Linked DNA regions of Homo sapiens. The protein of the gene in region 5 interacts with the protein of the main gene of each other region in a biochemical or structural test. Each region holds a gene or a part of one and is shown on either strand. Other genes may lie near its edges. The genes, in order: ERBB4, MET, GAB1, BCAR1, INPPL1 and PLEK2.

Region 1 (3,500 bases), on a different chromosome or scaffold from region 5:
AAATTTTTCTTTCTTTCTAATTGCATTTGTCTCTTCTGCATATGGGGCTGGTTGTTTCAATGTTTTTGTTTTCTAAAAGTTATTTATATTAGGAAATAAGACTACCTATTAGGATTAAATAGTCTTTAAATATACAGACAACTTAACTTCTATAAAGGATATTGAAAAAACAAGAATCTATAGCTGAGTTCCATGCCAAGATGAATAGATGGAGTGAAGAAATCATGTTTTTTAGTCTCTATGGTTTGCTATGATTGCCTATACTGGTAACAAGGATTTAATTGGAGATGCTTCTGAAAAAGGTTTTACACATGGAAAAGAAAGCATCAAAGGAAAAAAATTCAACTAAAAAAGCAAATCTAACAGATAGCTAACATGCCTCTAGTTGACCTGCTTGACATTACATATACTTCTACTTAATAGTAAAGTATAATTATAATATTTCCATTGACCAATCATAATCACAAAGTAGCAAACTATCAGCTTGAATTATATAAAATAAAATAAATTTTGTATATTGAAACCAGTCAATTAGTGCCTATTTTGTACGGATCAATCTAATAAATCCATCTAGTATAGGTATTGGCCTAAAAGGTGCTAATAATTATCACCATTCTCCTGAAGCTTAATTCCACATCTATGTCTATAATATAGACTGCACATAGACATAAACACGCATGTATTGTAAGTCCTCTGACAGTCCTCTCTTTTACTATATACACAAAGCCCTAAGCTATTCCTATTTTGAATTCAAGGCATGAAGAGGGCACAATTCTTTGTTGAGAGGCCATTCTGAAACAAACTTTCTGTCTTTTATCCTTAGCCCAATAAGTAGAGAGAAAAATCCTATTAAGTGAGGATTATTTTTCTCCAAATATATATATACAGAATAGGTAAGTATTTAGCATCATTTATTCAACTTAAAGGGCAGTAATGAATATCCCACTATCATATATAGGCCTTTACAAGACACTATCATTTCATCCTCCCAATTCTGTGAAAAAGAAGTACAAGACTTATTTTTCCAGCTTTGTAGACAGAAAAATGAGATTAAATGATGTGTGCAGGATACAATTAGTGTTGGGATAGAATTCAGGTCTTCTAACTCCTCTTGCATAATCTTCTTATTCTACTGCACTGTTTTTTATTATTGCCCCTGCAGGAGTTGGGTGAACTTTATGCTTAGTAACAAGTTTTAATTTGACAAGTGTATGAAAACATTTATAAGGAATGCAGAATTTGGTCTCTCTTACCAGATTCCTTAAACTTCTTAATTGAAAGAATAGGAATGTCTACACTAAAATTCTGTACTCTCTGAGTACGAGGTTAGACTATAGCAACCTTTTATAGAAACGGAGCTTAGTGTTCAGAGATAAAATCTGAGAATACAGTGTGACTCTATAGGGTGACTTGCTTTTCTCTTCACCTTACCTTTCCTCAATGCAATCTACTTATATATTGTCCTCATGCAAACTTATATAGCTGTCCAATAACTTTACGGTTGGAGTGAAAATCTCCCCAGAAAAGATTCTTCTTTGGGGTGAATCTGCCAAGTCTTCACAACGTCTACATTTGTGTCATTACTAGGCTACTATGAGCATCCAAACTCTTCATTACATTTTTATATGTATAGAAGTTTTAGATATGTAAAAATTTTATCTAGACAGATATATTTTAAAAGGTTATTTACAATTAGAGATCTCTAAATTTTACTTTAAAGGAGAGAACATAACCATATACCAGGCCCTTCTCAGAGTCTTAAAATGTAGTTTACTGTTGACACTAAAGACTGCGAGAGACATGATCATCATTTTTTAATAACAATCATCTATCTTCTCTGTTGTGATACTGTTAGCATAGAAGAAGAAAGGCTGTTTTGTTGCAAAATTGAAGCATTATTTGATTTGGGTGCTTAACATTTCTACTACTAACTTTACAAAATTATTGTTATGCTTTGTAAAACCACAGATTATTATTTTCAAATCTTGGTGGTATGCTTGTAAGTATATACAGGGTCAAACCTTTAATTTTTGAAAAACGTCATATAAGAACATAATATTTTCCTATAATAAACTAGGTTGTTTAAATGTCATCATTTAAATGAGTCAAACAAATCTTTTATTAGTGCCATCAAAAGCATCAGGCACTTTTGCCAACAATACCAGTCTTTCTGATCTCCGCAATTAAGTCCAATAAAGCTATGGTCCTGACACTTTGTAGTATGCTACTTCATTCAAATATTTCAACAAAATATGTTTAGAATAGTGCTTCTCAAGACTGATTGCTGTATGCAGATAGCCTGGGGATCTTGTTAAAATCCAGATTCCTATTCAGACGGGGCCTGCCTGAGATTCTGATTTATATAAATAATAATAAATAATGTGGATGCTGCTGATTCAGGGACCATACTACAAGTAGCAGTAGCCTAGGCCTTTACTGGATCACAAATGTTGTGCTGGTCAGCTATCTGGCAATTTCTATTCTGTACTTTGTTTATCTTGATGGAAGTGAACTTCGAATGGCGATCGTTTCTGAATAATCAGTTCATACCTTGTTTGGGTTTGTCTCGCATAGGAGTCATGTAACCTTCCTCATCCAGCTCTCCTCGTGGGCTCCGTTCTGGGGCAAACACGGTGGGGTCAGCACTGTACCTCTGGGTGCTACTGTCCTCTTGGACATGGGGTGCCACTGGCTTGCGTAGGGTGCCATTACAGCAGGAGTCATCAAAAATCTCAGCAGTAGCACCCTGTGCCACAGGAGCTTCTGGAATTGTGCTAGTTGGGGCTCTGTAGGGCACAGACACTCCTTGTTCAGCAGCAAAACCTCCATCTCGGTATACAAACTGGTTCTGTTAATAAGAGAAACATATGTGGAGAGAAGGCGTTGTTAGAAATAGTTTAAAAATGAATGTTAATAGCCACAAGGATATCAAAGCCAGTCTTTCAGAGAATAGTCATAGTATTTACTGGTTTTTTTTCCCCTAGTGGCTAATGGAGTTACAAACTATAAACACCTAAAATTTCCACTTTTCTTAAAAGATAAATCATCAGAAAATAATTTTGAAATACACATTCTAGTTTTATTAACCAACTGAAACATATTCTAATAAAATGTATTTGATGCCCTTTTCCCACAAGTGCCTATATTTAATACAAATTTCAAAGTGAATTTTTATGATAAATGCAAGTGTCATTAATTATAGACAGTTGTCATTAAGAATAGAAGTACATGGATATATTTTGAATAATCCTATGTCTTTATTCCCTTCGAAAATTCTGTGGTTATTATGAATTTGAGGCTCTAGTACCTAACTAGAGGATCATCACTATAATTCTGACTTTTTAGTACATGACCAATAATCAGGGAAGTAAAGATCACCTCCACATCCAGAAGCATAATTTATGTGCCCAGGTAAATCCTTCAGATAAAAATTGAAAGCTACTGTTGATGCATGATATCTCAATTTCGGATTATCAGCTGAGATAAAAACACATCTACAA
Region 2 (3,500 bases), on a different chromosome or scaffold from region 5:
TTATTTCCCAGATCATCCATTGCATTCGATATCAGTGAGAAGGCTAAAGGAAACGAAAGATGGTTTTATGTTTTTGACGGACCAGTCCTACATTGATGTTTTACCTGAGTTCAGAGATTCTTACCCCATTAAGTATGTCCATGCCTTTGAAAGCAACAATTTTATTTACTTCTTGACGGTCCAAAGGGAAACTCTAGATGCTCAGACTTTTCACACAAGAATAATCAGGTTCTGTTCCATAAACTCTGGATTGCATTCCTACATGGAAATGCCTCTGGAGTGTATTCTCACAGAAAAGAGAAAAAAGAGATCCACAAAGAAGGAAGTGTTTAATATACTTCAGGCTGCGTATGTCAGCAAGCCTGGGGCCCAGCTTGCTAGACAAATAGGAGCCAGCCTGAATGATGACATTCTTTTCGGGGTGTTCGCACAAAGCAAGCCAGATTCTGCCGAACCAATGGATCGATCTGCCATGTGTGCATTCCCTATCAAATATGTCAACGACTTCTTCAACAAGATCGTCAACAAAAACAATGTGAGATGTCTCCAGCATTTTTACGGACCCAATCATGAGCACTGCTTTAATAGGGTAAGTCACATCAGTTCCCCACTTATAAACTGTGAGGTATAAATTAGAAATAAGTATCAGTCTCAAAAAGAATATCCAGGGCTTCTTTTGTGCTTTGTAAATGGTGTTTATCCAAAATAGTTGCAGATTTTTTCCAAGAAAATTGAGGAATTGAATCTTCATTTACACCTAAAATTATATCTTTAAAATGTAAATGGTAACTAAAAGAAAAATGTTTTTACAATTCAGATTTGCATGTTCGTGACATTTCAGATTATATTAAAGTTATTTCCCATATAAGCTTTTTTATATTTACACAGATTTTATCAGATTTACACAGATTTTATCAGATTTACACAGATTTTTATCACAGCAGCAATTCCCATAAAACATAATTATTGACATTTCTATATAATCTCTGCAACATTTACAAGATGTTCAAGCTAATTTGTATGCCTTAAAGAATTGTTCCTTATGAGATTATATTCTCTCACTGATACACAACTGATTAATCTATATTCTTGACATTACTTAAAGGAACTTAACTTTAAAAAACCTCTTCTGAAATGCTGGTAAATAAAACATTTTTAAATGAGCTCGTATACTTCTCTAAATAACCTGTAAGAGTAGAGAGGAAATGTTTGTTCCCAAGTCCTTCCTTTAGAGCTTGACTTTAATCATGGACTTCCTTCTGGAAAAGACTTGTGTCTACCAAGTTCTAGCTTGGCACTTTACCTGGTTGGTATTTGTTATTTATAAGCATAAATATTTTGGTTGATGATTATTTATACTTATATGAAATGGTATTTTCTTAGGAGCTGTTAGAGATATTCTTGGTGCTGTGATTTAAATATAGTAACAGCTACCAGCTATACCTGGAGATTTATCCTGCTAGTCAGTTGATCACCTGGTCTGAGTGTTTATTGTGGCTTTGAGTTTCTTGATCTGGGCCAGATTTGGAATACGGACCTGACTATGACCATCATTGAATGAACAAATAGTATAGCTTTTCTAAAGACAGTTTGACTTTGGCATGGTATGTTTCACTTACTTTAACAGGTTTCAATCTAAGATATAAAGGTTATAATTGCAATCAGGTAGAACATTAAACATGTCCTCAGTAGCATAAAGTATATAATTTGCTGAGGGGTAAAGGCATATGAATTCAGAGACATTTGGTTGACTTTTGCTGAAATGTCTGGGACACTTCTCTAGATGGAAACTATAGTTAACTTTTTATGATGCTAGGAAAATACTTCCAAGAAAGTCAGTTCATCTTTTGGTGAACTAAAAACAAAACTTCCTTCCTCTCTCTTCCAAAGTCTATGAATATACATAACATAAATGCACATACATTCCAACTAAGACTTATTTCCCCCTACATACATTTAATATATGTTGCAAAGAAGCAATAGAATTCCTTATGAAGCTCCCCCTTTTCTTTACTAGAAACTACAAAAGAATGAAAGGAAACAAAATGATTTTCAGAAACCTGGGATTAGGAAATAAAAATATAATATTAATAGCATTACAGAGAAGATATTTTTCTGCATCCAGTAAGTTGATTCTGAGACACAAGTTTTAAAAGAGTCTATTAGGAATTCCTCCAGGGCTCCTAGAGCACATGGATTTGCTATTTAAATCTTTCTTTGTTAAAAATTAAAAAGAAGGGTAGGGCAAGAAAAAAATTAAAAAGAGAATTCATAAAGGTATATTGATATCTCATTTTTTAAATTTTGTACATTTCAATCCTTAGATGTAAAAATACTTATCAATTCTAGAAATTCTCAAAACACATCTGAATTTTATCCTACCCTTTTGACTTTTTTAGTGTTCCAAGGGAGACAAACAGACAGGATTAGCCAATGAAATTCAGGTCAGTTTTATCGCCCAGGAAAAATTCCCAAAATGCACTAGCCACACCTGAAACCATTATCACTCCCATCACAAAAATTCTTGCGGGAAACAAGATGGAACTTGCCAACATAGTCTTCTTACAAAGGAAGCCAACTTTTACACTGGCCAAATTCCATAGACAAATACCTTCAAACCTCCTCTATTTATTTGCCTGTTTATCTTCTCTGGTTACAAAGATCAAAATTCTTCTGAGACTGAGACTACACATATTCTCTCTCTCCATATACCCCATCCAGACCTCAGATTGTTCCAATAATGAGCATATAATCATTTCCTAGCTTAATGCCAAAATGAAGGCACCTAGAGCCATTCATCACACACAAAAAAAACAAAATGATTACAAGATCAAAGCTGTTTAGCAGGACTCTCAAGCAATAAGATGACTCCATTTTGTCTTGGCAGATTTACTTGGCCAGAAATCAAGTGACCCTTTTAATAATTTCTTGGAACTGAGTTTTTACTTTGGCATCAAGTTTGGTGAAAAGACACACATATTGTAGTTTTGTTATTAACATCTCTAATACATTTATAAAGGGACTCTTGTGGACAAGGTTAAGAAAGCTGAGCTGCAGCAGTAACTTTCTACTTATGCTTCTGCCCAGTCCTCAGTGTTGACACATTGCTGAAAGAGGGATTTCCTGGCACTCCAAGAGCTCTCCACCATGTGCAAAAAGTGTTTCTATCACAAGATCAGATAATGGGAGTGCCAGGGACGGGCCTTTTACATTTTAGGGGTCCAGCAGGTGTACCAGGCCTGACTTGCTTGTTTAGGATCACATATTTTGTTGCTTTTCCCAGTCTCACATTTCATGAAATATGTCTATGCAAACTCTTCACATGCATCTTCTCATATTGATGACATCACAAAAGCCCTCTTTTGAGTCATTTGATAATTCCCAGTACTCGTCATCTTCACCCATAAGCTATTTGTGCTTCAGAACTCTTTGTCTCCACATATGATGCTGTTTCTGGAAACTTATCCCAAGCCACAAATGCCCACTTATAGAATACCAGT
Region 3 (3,500 bases), on a different chromosome or scaffold from region 5:
ATTCACATGATTTTAGCACTGTTTTCTGGACTATAAAAATCCATTCATTGAATATGCATCTACTTACTGCAAAATAAATAAATATCATCTCTTAGTAAAATTATCCCTCTATGGATACTTCCCTCTCAAGCAGTAAGCTTTAAAAAGTAATGCAGAAGTAAAGCAAAAGAATATAAAATATGATGTTATTTATGCAGGGCCCTCAAGAAATCATATCATTCAGTAAGTGATTTCTCCAGATAGTGAAGCTTCATCTTTAAATACAGAAATGACTTTTTAAAACTTTATTGTCTTGCACGCAAATCTTTCTAAAATGCTTTACTACATACTTCACCAAACATAATCCATTCCCCAATGATTCAGACTAAGTATTGTAAGCATCCATTTCTATACTGCACTTCAGGAGACTCTCAGAGGCTGTTGCACTGTATAGAGTGTCATTTGCCCCTATACTATTAATAAATAGTACCATATTGCTATGCTTGTATAGTTCATCTTTTAAATACAGTTTCCTGTCTTTTTTCTCTCAATTTCCATCAACTGTCACTTTTCCCCCTCCAATAATAGGGTTTATAGGAGGCTAAACTCTTACCTGCCTCAGGGACTTTGCACATGTTTTCCCCTAAATACATTATATTCTTTCCCTCACTTTTTGCCTGGCCAACTCCAACCTTCAGGGCTTCTCTTCCCTGACCACCCTCAATGCAACCAACTCCAGTGTAAACTAATAGCATAGTTTTAGAGATCCTATTACTTACCTACGTAGTGATTTGTGTAATTTTGCAATTCAATTTTTCTTTGTATTTATTTGTGTAGTACGTAACTCCCCAAACAGACTGAAAAGTTCAAGAAGATAGTGACCACGCCTGCTTTATTTGCCATAGCACAGTGCCTAGTACATAGCATATCTGTACAATAAATAAACAGAATTCTCCTGAGAGAGTAGACTTGTAAAATTTTTGAGATTAGATTTGATACATGGGCCACAATGAAGAGAGTGCTTTCAAAGCATCTTCCACTTGAGAAAAAGAGCTCCAATACTGAACATATACATAATAAAATAAACATAACTAAGACAACTTTACCAAAACACATGCACAAAACATCTTGGGAAAATGGCAAAAACAGAAAAGCACAGAACATGTCCTTTTGCTACAGCTTATGTGTCACTCTTTGTTTTCCGGCTAACTGTGGCTCCCCCCCATCCATTCCTTGGCTTCCCTGTTGAAATCACATTGTTACAATTCAAAAAGCCCTTAGGAACTAAAATAAATAATCAAGAAATGAGTAGCAATGAATTGAGGTGCATTAGATATATTGGGCTAGTGATTACAGAGGCTGAGTAGACATTATACAAGACGTGAACCCTTACGGCAGGAAATTACAGCATTAAAACACAGAATTTAGCCAAGCAGCACCTGCCATTTATTTATTTATTTTTAACATGGTCCAAATGTGAATGTTTGTCTCAGTCACAAAATGAGTCACCCTCATTGAATCTGGCACAGATTAAGCTGGAAAACAAAAGCAATTACATAAACTACACACTTTAATAAGGCAGATACAAAGGTTCTCTGGATTATGGTACAAAGCACAATTTAGCCACAGAATAAAGCTTGATGCTCGACAAGAGAACTGACATCAGCACCCTTGCTAATCACAGCACAAAAGCGTCTCTATGTTTTGTCAGAGCACAAAACGGGCCCACATAAATCAGTCTTTGTTATCTGAAAATATCTGAGATTCTTAAAGTTTGTCCTATTTTTATCCTTGCTGCCTTGGTAGCTCCAGAGAAAGCCGTACACTGCCTTGCCAATCCTGCAGAGCAGGAGCAGACAAAAAGGACAGGCTTTCTAGAAACCTTCAAAACCAAATACTCAAAGTAATTTTAAAAGAAATTCACACAAAAAATCATTTTAACGACTAGACTTCCATTACGAGCAGGTAATGAAGAAGCTGAAATTTGCAAGATGTCTGCATAGTTGAGAAGGACTATGTAAAAACTTATTTTGTAGCCATTTCTTATATGCAATAGTCACTCCAATTTTGAGTTGAACAAATAATTTGTTAACAAGAAGTCAACAGTTAAGTCTGGATTTTGGGGTAACTTAAAAGTACCAAATTCTGAAGCCAATTCCCTATGCTCAGTGACTGCCCCCTGTGCCTACAGGATAAAACCCAAACTCTGGCAGGGTACACAGGACCCTCCAATCAACTCCCGCCCCATCTCCACCCCTAAATCTCTCCAGCGTCACTTCTTGCCCCTCTGCCTTCCAACCACATTGGAAATACTTGTAGTTTCCCAAACACTCTGCTCTGTCCTGCCTCTCACCCCTTGGCACAAAATCTACCCCCTAGATTTAGCTCAGCCCTCTTCGGGGCACCATCCGAGTTGGCTCTGAGCTCTCCATTTCCACCTTTTTCCTAAATCATTTGACATCTGTGCATTTGAATGTACTGAGGGCTGGAGCCATTTTAACCTTTCTTCTTTCCTTTCCCATTGCCTAGCGCCAAGGAGGTGCTCAGTCAATGTCTGCTAAATACGCAATACAAAATGTTTGAGGCAAGGATTAAAAATACAGAAGTTCTCATACTATTTATGCATTGCAGGGATAGTGATATAACTGCGATCTGCCCAGCCCATTCAAGAATTGGTCAGGCAAGCATAGAGGTGTGTAAACAAATTAATTTGTTTTTAAAACTCTACAGACATAAGAGAGATGTTTTTAAACATCATTTTAAAAGAACTATTCTTTTAAACATTTCCTGTATTTAGCAAATTGGATATGCTCACCTGTAGAACTGTCACACTGAAGCTAGGTCTTAAGGCAGGCTTATCACACACCCTAGAGTATGGGTATGTACATACTGGCAAGAAAGTACAGATGGGAGTCCCACTATTTGGTGGGAAGGAAACATTTTTTAACCTGGATTAACCCCAAGCCATTAATGGCTGTAATATTACTAACAAATTCACAAATTTTGCCTATATGGCTGTAACGTTACTAACAAATTCACAAATTTTGCCTAATTAACCTAACTAGCAAATGGCTTCAGCTTTAAAGAAAAACATTGTAACTGCTGTACACCCTGTTTTGTGAGTTCTCTGTGGTATAAATGACAGCTCACATGCCTGGTGTGATGCTTGCCAAAATTCCCTCATCTTTTCCCTGTACCTTTACTGGAAGAGCTAATTATTGAGGAAGTGGCCAATATATGGGCAGGCAAGAGAGAAGATCAGAGAAGAGGTCGGGGGTAGTCCATGGGTTCTCTGCCCTGAATGCACATTAGAAATATCCGGAGAGCTTTGCTTAAAAAAAAAAAAAGCTTGGGGTTTCACCTTAAGCCAACTAAATTGTAGTGTATGGGGGTGGGGTGAAGATTGGAATAGGCAGGTTTAAACACTCAACAGATGATTCTAATGTGCCACCATGATTAAGAACCATAGATCCAATCAATAGGATTATATTGCTCTTTAAAGTAAAATTTCAAAAACAAAA
Region 4 (3,472 bases), on a different chromosome or scaffold from region 5:
GCTTCCTGAACCAGGCAGGCGAGGCTGCCTGGGGACTTCCTCCTCTTCCCAGCCCTCTGAGCTGGAAGCGTCAGCTCATGGGATGAATGGCGCCCCGGCATGGATGAAAGCCACTTGCCCCAGCTCCCTCCAGGAGTGTGCATGGCAGAGCTGGGGCTGCCACGTGAACCCAGGCCTCAGGACCCTGGCACAGCCCCTGCACCCACACTTGCCATTTCTCCGCACCCCTCCCTGGACTCCGCCAGGTTAGGGTCTCCCAGGCCCTGGCACCCAGTTCAGGCCTGGAGACACCTCCTCTCCTTCCTGCAGGGTGACTCCGACAGCCCTTGCCTGCCAGGATGGAGCCTGGACTCTGGAGGGCATCGTGTCCTGGAGCAGCACCAGCACCTCCTGTTGTCACCAGGCGTGGATGCCCGCATCATGAAATTCATGCCTGGGAAGGCGTGGAGGCCGAGACCACCCCCCCTACCCCGCATCTGTGTAAAACACAAATAAAGCCATTGAGAGCAACTGCATACACCTTTACCTCTGTGTCCTCACCAAGGCAGGTGGGCTGAGCATGATGTGGCTGAGGTGGGGGGACAGATGCTGTCACGGGGACAACCTCTGTAGAGGTAAGATCAGGAGGGCTTGCGAATCACCCAGCCCTACTCCCTTCTTCATACAGATGGGGAAACCAAGGCCCATGTTCATATGCAGAACGGTCAGGGCTGGGAGCAGCACCAGGGGTTCCAAGCACCCTGAAGCTTCCATCTGGGCTGCGGGCTGCTGGGTGGGGGAGCCACGAAGGGGGACACACTTGCCCAGGGCAAGGGTCTTCTCCAAGCCCCTCCCTCCCAACTCAGATGCCAGGTCCAGGTATAATTCCATGTGCACTTCGGGAGTTCCGCAGGCTGGGATGAGATTCTTTTAAGCAGAGCTCTGGATGCAGCCCCCAGCGGTGCCCTCGGCTCACAGGAACCCGTCCCCTTGTGCAGCTGTTCCTGCCCCAATCTGCCCTCACTCCAGATGCCAGCTGTGGGCATGGGCAGGTGCTCACTGTGGCAGCTCCCTAGGGTTGCAGGGGCCATGCCCAGGCTGTGCTTTCTGGGCCCCAGACCCTGCAGCTCTGAAACTGCCCCCTTTCTTGGGCCCAGGCTCTGCCCTGGCTCCCAGGGCCTTGTGGCCAGCTGCAGGCCTCACCCCGCCTCCAGGAGACACCCAGCCTCGGCGTTCCTTGGTTTTCTTCTAGAGAGACCCACTCCTCCTCTGCCCTCCCGGGAGATGCCACGCATGGCCCTTGCCCCCGGGTGCCTTCCCCAGAACCGTCACCCACCCCGGGCTGCTCTCATCTGCCACCCTCAGGCAGCTGCTCTTCCTTTTAAAAACTTTATTTAAATGGAGACTCTTAGTCAAATGATTGGAAAACCAATAACGAAAAATAGTTCTTCAGGTTCTTCTCCTGGTAAGGCGGAGGACACACCAAACTGCACTGGCCCTGTCAGGGGACACGGCACCCTCGTGGGACCAGGCTCAGCCCTCGGGGTGGCACGAGGTCCTGCAGGCTGCAGGACCCTCACACTCCAGCCCCGTCTGGTGACCCAACCCGGGCCCGTGGTGCATGCTGGGGAAGGCCACTGGCCGGCCCCTGGGCTTCGGCTCCTGAGGAGGCATGGCCCCACACCCTGCCCGGCCATAAATATATACAGATTCCTGGGCATCCAGGGCACCAGGACCGACGCAGAGCTGGGGTCCTGTCCCTAAGCCTGTGGCACAGCGACTCTTGACATGGGAGCCAGGGAGCTGGGACCGCCGCACCCCTCCCCTGCCTCCCTCCTGGGGTCACCACCCTCAGGCGGCTGCCAGCTGGCCTAGGACGCGGCGGAACTGCTGGGTGCTGTGGCCCAGCTCCTTGACCCTCTCCACCATGTCCTGGGCCGCGGAAGGCGATGGGTACTGCAAGGCAGCGGCCTTGGTGGTGGCCACGATGCCGCGCAGGAGGTCGCACAGCAGGTTGCTGTAGTGGGTCACCTGGCTGCGCACGTCAGCAGCCTTGGCCTGCCGTGACAGTGTGTCCCCGATGAACACCAGCTTGTGGGCGCTGAGGATGACGAACTTGCTGTGCGCCACAAAGATCTTGGGCGGCTGGTTGGTGGCCACGGCGGTAAAGAAGGCGTCCACGGCGTTGGTCAGTGTGGTCAGGTTGGCCTCACACTGCTCCAGGTAGAAGAGCAGCAGCTGCCGGTCCGAGGGCCCCAGGCCGCCTGTTCGCCCCGGGGCCAGGGGTTGGGCTGGCGTCCAGTTGGCCAGGTCGTGGTCTATGGGCCGTGACACCTCCTGTTCCAGTCGTTCAAACTGCTTCAGCTGGGGCAGGAGGGAAGCAGGAGCAGGGTTAGGCTCTCGGGTGAGTTGGAACTACAGGCCGAGACCTGGGCACCCTGGGCTGGGCTTCTCTAAAAGGGCCGCTACTCAGAGTGCATGGGACTGCAGGGAAACGGGCAGTCTCCTCTCCCGGGGACGGGACCAGGAACCATGGCAAGCCTTCTGGAGGTTGTTCAGTTACCCTTCCACCAGTCTCAAAAGGTCAGACTCCGTGCCCTGAACATTTTTGAAATGACAAGATGGACAACAGAAAAGTGGCTGCCTGGGGTCGGGGGGTCACCGTCCTGGCTTGGGTACTGTCCCACGTGACTTGAGACGTGGCACTGGGGAAAATGGCTGAAGGGCACTGGGGACCCCTCGACCCTATCTTTGCAACTTCCTGTGAATCTATAAATATTTCAAAATGGAAGGTTAAAAAAATTTTCCCCTTAGTTCAAAAGTAACATACACATTATAAAAAGATTCAAATATATCAAACAGAAAAAACGAAGATGTCACCTGTAATCCAATGCCCCTAAATAGAACCTCTGCTAAATCATCTTCCAGAACCACACACGAAAGTTAACATTTCCACTCCCGTGCCTAGGAGTCAGCTGAAGGGGACAATGTGTCCTCACTAGAGCCGCTCTGGCTCCGGAAGTGACCAGCCACACCCAGACTCAGGACTGGTAAGCTCTGTGCCACCCTAGGCGCAAAGATCCAAGCCACAATGAGCAAAACCAATAGGAAACCTCCCCTTCCTAACACTTAGAACCTCGCACTGTCCCCCTTAGGCAGCCACTTGGTGAAATCCTCCATCTCTCCGTTCCCTTAGCCAGTGAGATACATACTCCGCTTTTTTTCTTTGAAAAGCTCTGATGAGGCAGGGTGAGGTGGCTCATGCCTGTGATCCCAGCACTTTGGGAGGCTGAGGCAGGTGAATCACTTGAGTCTGGGAAGTCCAGGCTGCAGTGAGCCCTGACAGAGCACAGGCAACAAGCTTTGTGGGGTTTTTTTTTTTTCAATACTATTTTTATTTTTATAAAGAAGGAGTCTTGATCTGTCACCCAGGCTAATCTTTTTTTTTTTTTTTTTAAATGGAGTCTTGCTCTATCGCCCAGGCTGAAGTGAA
Region 5 (2,440 bases):
CGTAGTAGGCAGGGTTATTGAAGCTGTTCTTGGGTGGGGGGGCCGCCACCCCTTCTGGTTCAGGAGCTCCCTCTGGCTTCAACCTGGGTGTGGAAGCAGAACGACTAAGCCAGGATCCAGGAACCCAGGTCTAAGGCAGTGGAAGCAGTGGAAGGAGAACTAGACGGGAGTCAGAAAGTCCCCTGGTCCTAGACTTTCTCATGACCTTGAGCACATCACCTGCCCTTAGTTTCTTCATCTCTAAAGGTCAGAGGGAGGATAACCCTTTGAATGGATAACCCTACAATCCCTTGCCTCACTTGCTAAGATACTTAGATCTTTCATGACTTTATCTGTAGCTGTGAAACCCAAGCTAAATGGGTCAGAATAGAGGTGCCAGAAGACAGGGCAAGAAGCCTCCAATGAGAGGCCAGGTTTGGAAAGCCTCTTGAGGCACCCACAGTCAATCCGCTGCAGAATCTTTCTCAGAGATTCAGGTGGGTCTTATTCAAGCCTAGGGATAAAACCGGGGTGACTGACAACAGCTGAAGATGAGTGAAAAAGCACCAAACTGTACCTAGGAGTTTATGTAAGTTTAAGCAACAATCGGATATAATTAGAAAGCAAGCCTCACTTTCCCAAAGTGTGACACAGAGCACTAATTCCCCAGAACGTTAATAGTTACTACATGGAAAATAAGTTTCCTGGCCCATTAAGTTTGGGAAACTATATTAAACAGAGCTGAAAAGAGGTTTCCTTCCTGTCCACATGCTCAGAGCTTTTGCTAATACTAACATGCACTGGGAATGTCTAAGAAAAGAATCTAGAAAAAGCATTTCCCAAACTCATTTGACCACAAACCCATTTCAACTGGGGCCTCTTGCAGGACAGAGTTCCAAAGAAGGTACCCTGGGAAATCCCAGGCCGAGCCATGTGCCTCCTCCAAATAGAAGGCTCAAGCTAGGTCTGTTTACATGGAGGGAGCTGTCTTAGAAACAATTTCGCATTCCATTTTTAAAGGCAGAATTGAGAGGAAAGGCTGACTGCTCCCTTTGACTCAGAGCCACAGCTAAGGGTGGCCTGGCTGGCCACAGGCATAAGGCCATGGCAGCTCCAACCACAGAGTGGCAGGGCACCTAAGCAGCTGATGATCTCCAGGCCAACCCTGAGACCCTGCAGGGGATAGTGATGGATAGAGGTGGGTGGGGGAAGGGGGGGCGGTGACAGGTTCCTCCTCTCACCTGGGGGTCAAGGGCTCCTCCCGGGGAGCTGCTCGGGGTGGGGCTGGGGGCCTCCCCGTTGGTGGCGGTTTCTCTGGTTCTTCAAATAACCTGGAGAGCGGGCAGGAGGCCTCTGTGAAGGCTGGCTTGCGGCTCCCTGACCTGCCAGGGATGCACAGGAGAGAGATGAAGTGGGGTTGACCAGATGCCCCCAGGTACCCTTTCATATGACATTCAACACAGCCCTAGCTCACCTGGGCTCCTGGCTCCCTCGGGACACAGAGGGGGCTTTGCTCTTTGCTCCTGCCTCATCCTTATCAATGCTGATCCACTCTGAGGGGGCAGGAAGGGAGACTCAGAGGAGACCTGGGCTCCTGGATCCCACAGACACCCAGTGGGCCTGCCAGCCCTTTCCCAGCTATGCCTTGGGGCAGGACTATTCCCAGCTGTGGCTGCAGAACCTCCAGGTATCCCAGAGATTCCAACATGCCCCCCGCACCCTGCCCTCCTTGATCTGTTCACACCACCCTATCTCATGTCCCAGTGGAGTCCCCACCGTAGAGCCGCTCACGGGTGCCCAGGCGCTCCGTGGGCACCCGCACCTTCATGGAGCCTCTGATATTGCCTGTCTCCTCGCCACGGTGGGATAGGAAGGTCAGGAACTGTTGGGCCGTGCTGCCGATCATGGATTTGAGTGCAACCACACACTCCCCTGAGGAGCAGATGGGACAAACCAGCAAATTACCAAGCTAATCTAGGGCCCTGTCTGGCTTCCTGTTCCCCTCAGCACCCCTCACCCCTCACCATAGGATTCATAGCCATCCATGGACTTGACTGTGAGCAGGAGGTGCTGGTCCTGCAGGTACTCGATATCAGCCAGAATTGGTTTGAGCTGGGAAGCAGGGAGGCCCAGTGAGGAACAAAGCCCCGCCACTTCCTCCTGCCCCTCCTACGCGCTGCCCCCTGACACCACTCAATCCCCACCCTCAGGTCATCTGTGCTCACTCACACTCAACTCTTCAGAGAAGAGCCAAATCCTTAATGCAGAAGACACAGCCCTATACAGGCCTTTTACAGCACCTAGCATCACTGTAACTAATTAATTTTCTCAATAGCTAACACAGGACCTGACATCTAGCAAAAGCTCAAGAAGCATCTCCTGAATGAATGAACAAACTGCAACAAGGTTCCACACTCCCAAAATAAAGCAAACGCCTTTATCCTCACTCATGCCCATGCCC
Region 6 (3,500 bases), on a different chromosome or scaffold from region 5:
GCTCAAGCAATCCTCCTGCCTCAGCCTCCCTAGTAGCTGGGACTACAGGTACATGTTACCACACCCAGCTAATGTTTTGTTTTTTGCTTTTTTTTTATTTCTTTTTTTTTTTTTATAGCGACAATGTCTCACCATGTTGCCCAGGCTGGTCTTGAACTCCTGGGCTCAAGCGATCCTCCCACCTTGGCCTCTCTAAGTGCTGGGATTATAGGCGCCTGGCCAATAAAGGATCATTTATGTGGCGAAAAAACTGAAAACCACCTGTCTGTCCCCACCAAATGACTAATTAAATTATGGTTATGCAGATGTTGAATATGTTTATAGTATTAAAATCCGAAGAGTAAAGTGATAAAATGTATGAGTAAAGAAAAAATATGCGTAGAAGAAAAAGAGCAGAAGGAGTTCTGGAGGCTAGAGGTGCAAAATCAAGGTGTTGCCAGGGCCGTGCTGCCTCTGAAACTTGTAGAGGAGGATCCTTCCTAGCTTCTGGTGTTTGCAGGCAACCCTTGGCATTCCCTGGCTTCTAAATACTTCAGTGCAACCACTGTCTCTGTTGTCACGTGACCATCCTCTCCCTATGTGTCTCTTAGTGTCCAAATTTTCCTCTTCCTATAAGGACACCAGTCAATTGGATTAGTGCCCATTCTAGTCTAGGGTGACTTCATTTTAACTTGATTACATCTGCAAAGACCCTATTTTCAAATAACATCACACTTACAGGTCCAGAGGTTAGGACTTCAGTGTATCTTTTTTGGGGAAATACAATTCAACCCATAGCAAGTATCATCCCATCTTTGTTTTTTCTTTTTTTATTTTATTTTATTTTATTTTATTTTATTTTATTTTATTTTATTTTATTTTATTTTATTTATTTATTTTGAGACCGAATTTTGCTCTTGTTGCCCAGGCTGGAGTGCAATGGTGCAATCTCGGCTCACTGCAACCTCTGCCTCCCAGGTTCAAGTGATTCTCATGCCTCAGCCTCCTGAGTAGCTGAGATTACAGGCATGCACCACCACGCCCGGTTAATTTTGTATTTTTAGTAGAGACGTGGTTTCTCCGTGTTGGTCAGGCTGGTCTTGAACTCCCAACCTCAGGTGATCCACCCACCTGGCCTCCCAAAGTGCTGGGATTACAGGTGTAAGCCACCATGCCCGGCCCTCTATTTTATTTTATTTTCAAGAGACAATGTCTCAGTATGTTACCCAGGCTGGAGCACAGGGACTGTTCACAGGTGTGATCATAGTGCATTGCAATGTTGAGCTCTTGAGCTCAAGCGAACTTCCTGGCTCAGCCTCCCAAGTAGCTGGGACTACAAGTACACACCACTGGGCCCAGCTGGCATCTCTGCTTTTCTCAGGGTTATAGAGCCTTGGGCAAGACCTTTCTGTGCCTCTGTTTCCTTATCTTTAAAGTTAGGGGTCTGCCGGGTGTGGTGGCTCACACCTGTAAATTCCAACAATGTGGGAGGCCAAAGTGGGAGGATTGCTTGAGGCCAGGAGTTCGAGAGCAGCCTAGGCAACAAAATGAGAACTCATCTCTACAAAAAATAAAATAATTAGCCAGTCATGGTGGTACTCGCTTGTAGTCCCAGCTGCTTGGGAGGCTGAGATGGGAGAATCGCTTGAGCCCAGGGGTTTGAGGCTGCAGTGAGCTATGATCATGCCACTGCACTCCAGCCTCGGCAACCAAATGAGACCCTGCCTCAAAAACATTTTTTTTAATTAAAAAAAAATAAGGTTAGGGGCTGGGCGTGGTGGCTCATGCCTGTAATCCCAGCATTTTAGGAGGCCGAGGTGGGCAGATCACGAGGTCAGGAGTTCGAGACCAGCCTAGACAACATAGTGAAACCCCATCTCTACTAAAAATACAAAAAATTAGCCAGGTGTGGTGATGGGTGCCTCTAATCCCAGCTACTCGGGAGGCTGAGGCAAGAGAATTGCTTGAATCCAAGAGGTGGAGGTTGCAGTGAGCTGAGATCGCACCACAGCACTCTAGCCCGGGCGACAGTGCAAGACTCCGTCTCAAAAAAAAAGTAATAGTAATAAGGAATAAAGGAGGCTTTTTCCTGGGGTCTCTCCAGCTGTAACATTCTGTGTCTCATAAGCCCATCCCTGAGGTGCCATTCCAGCTTATGGGCCCCTCGTCCTTCTCTCCAAAAGGGATCCAGGGAACTCCAAGCACCCCCTGCTTCAGCTGGCCTCTGGTTCCAGCCAGCGGATTACAGACAAGAAACCTAAAAGAGAAGCTACTCTCTGCCCAGGGACAAGTGTCCAGGTGGAGGGAGGCCTGGGTTCTTCTTCAGCATACCATTGTGTTATCGGCCTGTGACTCACTTTGCCTGGTGATTTTAGACCAGTCACTATGCCCTCTGTGCATGGTGTGGTTTATCTGTAGAGCAGAACCGGTGGTGCTTTCCTGCCAGGTTCATGGACTATTCCAGCAGCCTCCAGCTGAGCTCCCCACTCCAGTCTCACCTGCTTCCTTTGGCTATTCTGTTCTGCTGCTGTGTTCGGAGTGATAGGTTTAACATGAGAACGTAAGCTTGCTGTCTTTCTGCTTAAAATCCTCCAAGGACTCCCCTTGAAGATCAAACTTTGTGGCACAGAACCTGAAGCCCTTGCCACCTTGGTCCCCATCACCTCCCCTATGGAGCCCAAGCCATATAGAACCACGGGGAGTCTCCCCAAAGTGGCAGGGGTCCTATGCTCACCCCTCCTTGACTTCCTGACCTGCCTAACTCCACACAACCAGGAAGACTGAGCCCCAGTATCACTCCTGGGAATGTACCTAACCCCACCTCAGCCTCTCCTGAGCTCCTCCTTGGGGTTTGTATCATGCCCTATATTAATTATTGATTGTTGTATAACAAATTATCCCAAAAGTTAGCATTTTTTTTTTTTTTTTGAGATGGAATCTTGCTCTTTCACCGAGGCTGGAGTGCAGTGGCGCCATCTTGGCTCACTGCAACCTCCTCCTCCTGGGTTCAAGTGATTCTTGTGTCTCAGCCTCCTGAGTAGCTGGGACTACAGGCACCCACCACCACGCCCAGCTAATTTTTGAATTTTTAGTAGAGACGGGGTTTAACCTTTTTGGCCAGGCTGGTCTCAAACTCTTGACTTTAAGTGATCTACCTGCCCTCAGCCTACCAAAGTGCTGGGATTACAGGTGTGAGCCACCGTGCCTGGCCAAGCATCTTAAAACAACAAGATTTGTCATCTCACTGTTTCTGAGGGTCAGATATCCAGTAACAGCGTAGCTGCAAGACTGGCTCAGGGTCTCTCGTGAGGCTGCAGCCAAGAGTGACAGTCACCTGAAGGCTTGACTGGCTGTAGGGTCCAATTCTGAGCTCACCTACATGGCTGTTGGCTGGAGGCCTCAGCTCCTCACCTCTCAATTGGGCTGCTTAGGATATGGCAGCTAGCTTTTCCCACAGCAAATAATCAGAAAGAGAGAGAGGGAGAGAGGCAGAGGGAGAAAGAGAGAGAATGCCAATAAGA

Evidence for each region.
Region 1: the proteins of INPPL1 (region 5) and ERBB4 form a complex in vitro, tested with the Homo sapiens proteins (one large-scale study listed by BioGRID).
Region 2: the proteins of INPPL1 (region 5) and MET form a complex in vitro, tested with the Homo sapiens proteins (one large-scale study listed by BioGRID and IntAct).
Region 3: the proteins of INPPL1 (region 5) and GAB1 form a complex in vitro, tested with the Homo sapiens proteins (one large-scale study listed by BioGRID and IntAct).
Region 4: the proteins of INPPL1 (region 5) and BCAR1 form a complex in vitro, tested with the Homo sapiens proteins (one study listed by BioGRID).
Region 6: the proteins of INPPL1 (region 5) and PLEK2 form a complex in vitro, tested with the Homo sapiens proteins (one study listed by BioGRID).

What each region holds. Positions count from the first base shown.
Region 1 is NC_000002.12:211,384,303-211,387,802, forward strand, and holds part of ERBB4 (receptor tyrosine-protein kinase erbB-4 isoform JM-a/CYT-1 precursor), read right to left. Parts: intron 2,849-3,500; coding exon 2,551-2,848; intron 1-2,550. UniProt on the Homo sapiens protein: Tyrosine-protein kinase that plays an essential role as cell surface receptor for neuregulins and EGF family members and regulates development of the heart, the central nervous system and the mammary gland, gene transcription, cell proliferation, differentiation, migration and apoptosis.
Region 2 is NC_000007.14:116,699,696-116,703,195, forward strand, and holds part of MET (hepatocyte growth factor receptor isoform b preproprotein), read left to right. Parts: coding exon 1-589; intron 590-3,500. UniProt on the Homo sapiens protein: Receptor tyrosine kinase that transduces signals from the extracellular matrix into the cytoplasm by binding to hepatocyte growth factor/HGF ligand. Regulates many physiological processes including proliferation, scattering, morphogenesis and survival.
Region 3 is NC_000004.12:143,409,876-143,413,375, reverse strand, and holds part of GAB1 (GRB2-associated-binding protein 1), read right to left. Parts: intron 1-3,500. UniProt on the Homo sapiens protein: Adapter protein that plays a role in intracellular signaling cascades triggered by activated receptor-type kinases. Plays a role in FGFR1 signaling. Probably involved in signaling by the epidermal growth factor receptor (EGFR) and the insulin receptor (INSR).
Region 4 is NC_000016.10:75,227,681-75,231,152, forward strand, and holds the end of BCAR1 (breast cancer anti-estrogen resistance protein 1), read right to left. Parts: intron 2,344-3,472; coding exon 1,831-2,343; 3' UTR 501-1,830; downstream 1-500. UniProt on the Homo sapiens protein: Docking protein which plays a central coordinating role for tyrosine kinase-based signaling related to cell adhesion. Implicated in induction of cell migration and cell branching. Involved in the BCAR3-mediated inhibition of TGFB signaling.
Region 5 is NC_000011.10:72,234,767-72,237,206, reverse strand, and holds part of INPPL1 (phosphatidylinositol 3,4,5-trisphosphate 5-phosphatase 2), read right to left. Parts: intron 2,092-2,440; coding exon 2,004-2,091; intron 1,912-2,003; coding exon 1,756-1,911; intron 1,533-1,755; coding exon 1,454-1,532; intron 1,362-1,453; coding exon 1,221-1,361; intron 84-1,220; coding exon 1-83. UniProt on the Homo sapiens protein: Phosphatidylinositol (PtdIns) phosphatase that specifically hydrolyzes the 5-phosphate of phosphatidylinositol-3,4,5-trisphosphate (PtdIns(3,4,5)P3) to produce PtdIns(3,4)P2, thereby negatively regulating the PI3K (phosphoinositide 3-kinase) pathways.
Region 6 is NC_000014.9:67,405,666-67,409,165, reverse strand, and holds part of PLEK2 (pleckstrin-2), read left to right. Parts: intron 1-3,500. UniProt on the Homo sapiens protein: May help orchestrate cytoskeletal arrangement. Contribute to lamellipodia formation.